2 separate regions of the Homo sapiens genome follow, and region 1 is linked to region 2. Evidence: fine-mapped expression QTL. A gene starts in region 2. The other region holds a variant in brackets. All regions are shown on one strand. Distances are between the middles of the regions.

Region 1 (2,917 bases), 540 kb before region 2:
CAGCTGCAGACCAGCCCTCTGCTGCTTAATAGTATCCTGACAGGCGCCCCAAGTTCCATTAGAGATTGGCTCTTTTTTTTTTTTTTTTTTTTTTTTTGAGACAGAGTCCTGTCTCCCAGGCTGGAGTGCAGCAGCATGATCTTGGCTCACTGCAACATCTGCCTCCCAGGTTCAAGTGATTCTTGTGCTTCAACCACCCGAGTAGCTGAGATGACAGGTGCACGCCACTAACACCCGGCTTATTTTTGTATTTTTAGTAGAGATGGGGTTTCACCATATTGGCCAGGCTGGTCTCAGACTCCTGGCCTCAAGTGATCTGTCTGCCTCGGCCTCCCAAAGTGCTGGGATTACAGGCATGAGCCATTGCACCCAGCCAAAATGGGCTCCTTTGGACTTGACAGTGTTGTCCCCTTAAAGAGGTCACTTTTAAAATATGAAAACACTTGGGAGAGGTCCAATCTTACCACTCACTATTTTAGTTCAGGGCTTCTCAAATGGCCCACTGAAATGCCTGACAAGCATTGAATATGCCGATTCCTGGGCCTTGTCCCAATGATGCTGGTTTAATTAGTCAGGGCGAAGACCAGGAATTAACAGGTCATTCTTGAAAAGCTCTGATTAGGGGAAATAAAGGAGTGGGGAACTGGGTGCTACAGTTTGCATACAGTGAGATTAAAAAGCATTTGAAACAACATTGACTGCTTCACAGCTTTACTAAGGCCTAACCTTTGGCCACAATTATGTAGATTTGAAGAAATTATTTCCTCAACTTCAAGACTTGGCACTGACCGTGCCCTAAAAATAACTGGTAATGTGGAGTTAACTTGGCTGTGCTATCTTTAGAAATGTAGTTGCTACAAGGGCAGTTGCTACAAGGGCTGAAATGCATCTGGACAGATGTCTGGTATTTTAGAAATTCTAGAAAAAGGACTGAGGAAAGAAGGTCCTGCTCCCTCTGCCAATCAAGTAACCAACACCTCTGGTCTAAGCACTAGCTTACCTGCCAAAAAAAGATAACAACATAGTCCCTTCCTTCTATGAGCTCACAGCATAATTAGTTGGGAAAAGGGTGGGAAGGGGTTGAACAAAAAATCCACAAACCAAAAGAATGAACATCACAGGTAGAGTACGCAAAATGCCTTGCTGCTGTCATACATCTTCCAGTCACCCCTTTCTCCTCGTTTCTTAAATATTTAAGCACCTGGTTCATGACTTCCTCCACCACTGGCGCTATCATAATTCTAGTGGTCAAATTCATGACCAAAACTCCAACAGAGTTGATCCTTTCAACTCTCCAGCTTCTCAGATCTTTGACCTTTTCTCCTCCAACAATTGTGTCTCTGCCCTACCTCAGCCACTCAGCAAGGTCACACTCTAGACCTGTCATTACCAGTGACTGCATTCCCAA[C/T]ATATCTCAGTTTCAAGTTTCCCACTTTCCAATTACCACTTTCTAGCTTTCCATATTACTCTGTCGTCTCTCAACTCCAACGATTCTTGAATCTCATTGGGAGTTCTTATCCACTGATCCTACCAGCTTTTCACTCCCCTTAACCCCTTTGGTAGCTTTGCTTCCCTTCTTACCTGGCTTTGATCCCATCATAACACCCACTCCCTTTCCTACCACTTCAACCACCTCAATTCCCTCACCTCTTTCTCCTACCTTCACATCCCTATGCTGTTTAAATCCACCTTTCCACTTCCTTGGCACCGGCAAGCAAGGAGTTGAGGCAGCTCCATGATGACTGGTCTCACTTTAAATTCATGACCACAAACTTGAAGTAGGTCTGTAATGCCGCCTAGAGTCCCACTACACTTCCCTAGTCAGTCTATCCTTTCAGTCTCTAAAACAACTCTATCACCCTTTTTCTTCTCTCCTCCAATCTTCGATACTCCCTTTCTCATTTTCACTTTTAGCTGATGATCTTGCCTATTTCACTAACAAAAGTATTCAGAAGAGAACTTCCATATCCTCCACCATATATCCCAGCCTCTCTGCCTCTGTGATCATATACTTCATCTTCTCTTCTGACATAGTAGATAAACTATCCATGCTCCTTTCTAAAGCCAAAGCAATCTGTATGTTAATCAGATCCTGTCCCCTCCCAGCCTACTGAGACTTCCCTCCTGCCTGCTGCTGCGCCATGAAGTTAGCCCATCCTGCTAAAACACGCCCACCAGCACACAAACTCACTCTTATATTATGAATCTAAAACACAACAAAAACAGAAATAAAAATATTCTTTGACCCCATATCTCCCTCCACTTACTGCCTTGTTCCTCTGCTCCCCTCTACAGCAAAACTCAGAAGTTATTTCTACTTGCTCTACTTCCTCCTTTTTTCTTTCTTGCATTCACTCTAACAAGGCTTTCATCCTCACTGTCCCACTGAAACTTCACTTTTAGTATCACCAATGGTCCCTACAATTAAGTCCAAGACTAATTTTCAGGCTTCTCCCTAACTTGACCCATCAGCATCATTTCTCCTCCTGGAAATGTTTTCTTCTCTTGGCCTTCCAGACACCATCCCTTCTTGGATCACCTCCTATTTTTGTTGATTTCCCTTCTTAGTCTCTGTATTAGTCCGTTCTCACACTGCTATAAAGATAACACCTGAGATTGGGTAATTTATAAACAAAGGAAGTTTAATTGACTCACAGCTCTACATGGCTAGGGAGGCCTCAGGAAACTTAACAATCATGGCAGAAAGGGACACAGGCACCTTCTTCACAAGGCAGCGGGAGAGAGTGTGAGTGTGTGAGAGTGCAGGGAAAACTACCATTTATACCATCAGATCTCATGAGAACTCACTCACTATCACAAGAACAGCATGGGGGAAGCCACCCCCATGATCCAATCACCTCCCACCAGGTTTCTCACTTAACATCTGGAGATTACAATTCGAGATGCAGTTTGGGTG
Region 2 (2,858 bases):
TCCTTTTCAAAATAATTTAGGGCCCTATCTTTGCTGTTGCTCTAAGAACTATTTGGTAGTCCAGCACTGTCTAGGAGTCAATAGTCAGAAACCATTTCCTGTTGATTCTAAGACCTAAAATATTTTCAAATCTGCCTGCTCCTCTCTGGCACCAATGAACTGTACTCCAAGCCATCCTGACCACATGTCTGAAATTCTGCAATAGCCTCTGAACCCTTCTCACTGCTCCAGTTTATTCTCTACAAAGCATCTAGACCAGGCAGAATGATTTCAGGGACACACATAACTGATCCTGTCCTGTTGTTCTACTGCCTAAAACTTCTCAGTGGTTTCACATTGTCTTTAGGATAAAATCTCAGATCCTTAATAGGCCCAAGACCTTGCCACCTCGCTAGGAACCAGCCTCGCCTCTTGGTGTTCCTGGAAAGAGTCAAGCTCCTTACAAACCTTTATACACAATTTACTCTCTGCCAAGAGCTCTCTCCCCCTCCTGGCTTATCTTTCTCCAGTTCTTAGATTTAATGTTCTTTCTTCAGATAAGCCTTTCTTAACCTCCTACACCAGGTCAACGCTTCTTGTTAACCACTTCCTTAGTAACCTCCACTTTGCTTTGTAAGTAAATGATTATTTGTGTAACTAATAGTTTAATGTCCCCTCTTCATGTTAATGCAAACTTCCTGAGAAAGTGTTGGTAACACACAAGAGTAATTCAGGGATCCCTGAATCCAATTGTGTCTGATTCTAGGGCCCATGTCCACAACTACCAAACGTACGTAAATCTGCTCATTCTGGAAGATGGCTTTTTGCTTCTTTATTTCATGATAGCCAAATGTTGATGCATGGGAAACCCTGCATCATATAACATCGCTGAGCAAATTCTAGAGCAATGATGTTGGGCTACCCCTTTGTGTATGTTCTGTGAGTAGTGGACCATATACACCTCAGCTTTTACTTTTGTTGACTACAGGCTGGACTAGCTGGACTAGCTGCCCACATGCTTAAACAGAGGTAACATTAACCACTTTACAGGGTTGTAATAGTACTCATTTGTCCAATAAATACGTAATGAGCATTCAGTATAGGCCAGATGTTGGTTTAGATGCTGGGGATATCTTTAGCAGAGTGCTTACCTCCTTTAATGTTCCAGCTGGTCACTATTACTAGTAGTGTCATAATTGTGTGTCGATGCTTGCTTATGTCACGGAGTATGGGATTTGTGACGTTTGCCACTCATGGGCAGGGTCCCTGCGGCGCCTGGACCTCCAACGGCACAAGGGCGCGGACTCCACAGCATCACTGCGCGGCGTGGCCGCCTCTCTGCTCCAGGCCGCCAGAGGGCGCGTGGTCTCTACTGCCCCTCCGCTGTGCCTGAGCCTGCCCCTTACCAGCCACCCGGCCTCCGTTCCCCTCCCCAACGGCGCCTGTCCCGCCTTGCATTCCCAAGCTCCGCCCCCGTTGCCCGTAGCGGCTGTTTGTTGACTTCCGGGAGCGCGGTTGTAGTTGATCTCCGGAGTTTCGCCATGCGGAACTTGGGGGCTTTCGCGGCCCGCGTCGGTGCGGAGTAGCTGCTTTAGCCCCGACCAAACCGTCCTCTACAGCCTCCTGGCCCCGGCGCAGGCTGCCCGTACTGCCCGTGGCATGAGGGAGCCGGAAGAGCTGATGCCCGGTGAGTTGCGCCCGCGCCGGTGGCGGAAGGCCGGGAGGGAGGGTCCGCGGGCGGCCGGGCCCCGCCTCCGGATCGGCCCTGTAGGGGGACAGGCCCCAGGCTTGGCAGCCGGACTGGGGCGGGATCGCTGGTTGCGCTCCCGCGAATGACTGAGGGCAGAGGACCGGACGGGAAGAACAGGATGGGGGAGAACGGGAAAGAGGGTGCCTGTCTTTCGTATGCTTTTTAAATAAGCTCTTGATGAGCTTCTTGAAGGCAGGGACACTTTTTTTTTTTTTTTATGAGACGGAGTTTCACTCTTGTTGCCCAGGCTGGAGTGCAATGGCGCAATCTCGGCTCACCGCAACCTCCGCATCCCGGGTTCAGGCGATTCTCCTGCCTTAGCCTCCGAGTAGCTGCGATTACAGGCATGCGCCACCACGCCCGGCTAATTTTATATTTTTAGTAGAGACGGGGTTCCTCCATGTTGGTCAGGCTGATCTCGAACTCCCGACCTCAGGTGATCAGCCCACCTCGGCCTCCCAAATTGCTGGGATTACAGTCGTGAGCCACCGCGCCCGGCCAGGGAGGGACACTTTCTGTAAACTCCCCAAAGTGCGGACTCCAGACTTGTGCACTTTGGAGGTCCTGAGCTCCCGGTTATGTATTGAATGCAGTAAAGAGTGAGTGATCAGGGCTGTGGGGTAAAAGGGGATACAGGAAATAAATTGGACAAAGAGGGAGAAGAGGGACCCTTTAGCGAGTGTTTTTTAGCCTTTTTTTTCCTGAGCTCCATAGTTAGAAATACTTTTGACATTGTGACCCGATACTCCATATATACCGTGTAACAGAAATAGATGTCTGGTGAAGCAGTCCTTGTTCTATCCACTTAGATTCCACACACACCTTTTTGATAATGCATTCTTTTAAAATGCTGATCGTGATCCACTGAATTGATTTTCTGGCCCACTAATAGGTCACGACCATTTTGAAAAAACACTGGGTTTGAGCAGAATCATACCTTCACTGAAATATGTATGTTTTCTTCCATGCTCCTGGCCGGAACTGACATTCCTGGCCTGCAGTTCACAATTTAGTGAGACATACAGGAAAGTAAACAAAATGACCATATAAATTGACAGTAGATATTACAGGGCCAGAGCAGAGCCACCAAACCTTGGCTTGGGATGAGGGTATCAGGGAAGCCAGGGGA

What was found. PIP is the estimated chance that this variant, and not a neighbour inherited with it, causes the effect. A credible set is the group of variants that fine-mapping cannot tell apart.
Region 1: its variant is the best candidate, but not a certain one, in a credible set for the expression of RPGR in tibial nerve (GTEx, PIP 0.82).

The regions. Positions count from the first base shown.
Region 1 is chrX:38,862,251-38,865,167 of GRCh38, reverse strand. No RefSeq gene overlaps it. Among named protein-coding and RNA genes, the nearest start is that of MID1IP1-AS1, 60 kb to the right of the region's middle. The variant C/T (reference allele first, on the strand shown) is at 1,409.
Region 2 is chrX:38,326,148-38,329,005 of GRCh38, reverse strand. RPGR (retinitis pigmentosa GTPase regulator) reads left to right here and starts at 1,497. Exons shown (of 15, transcript NM_001034853.2): 1 at 1,497-1,666. The coding sequence starts at 1,639. It also overlaps a transcript of OTC not described here. RefSeq lists a silencer at 1,559-1,808.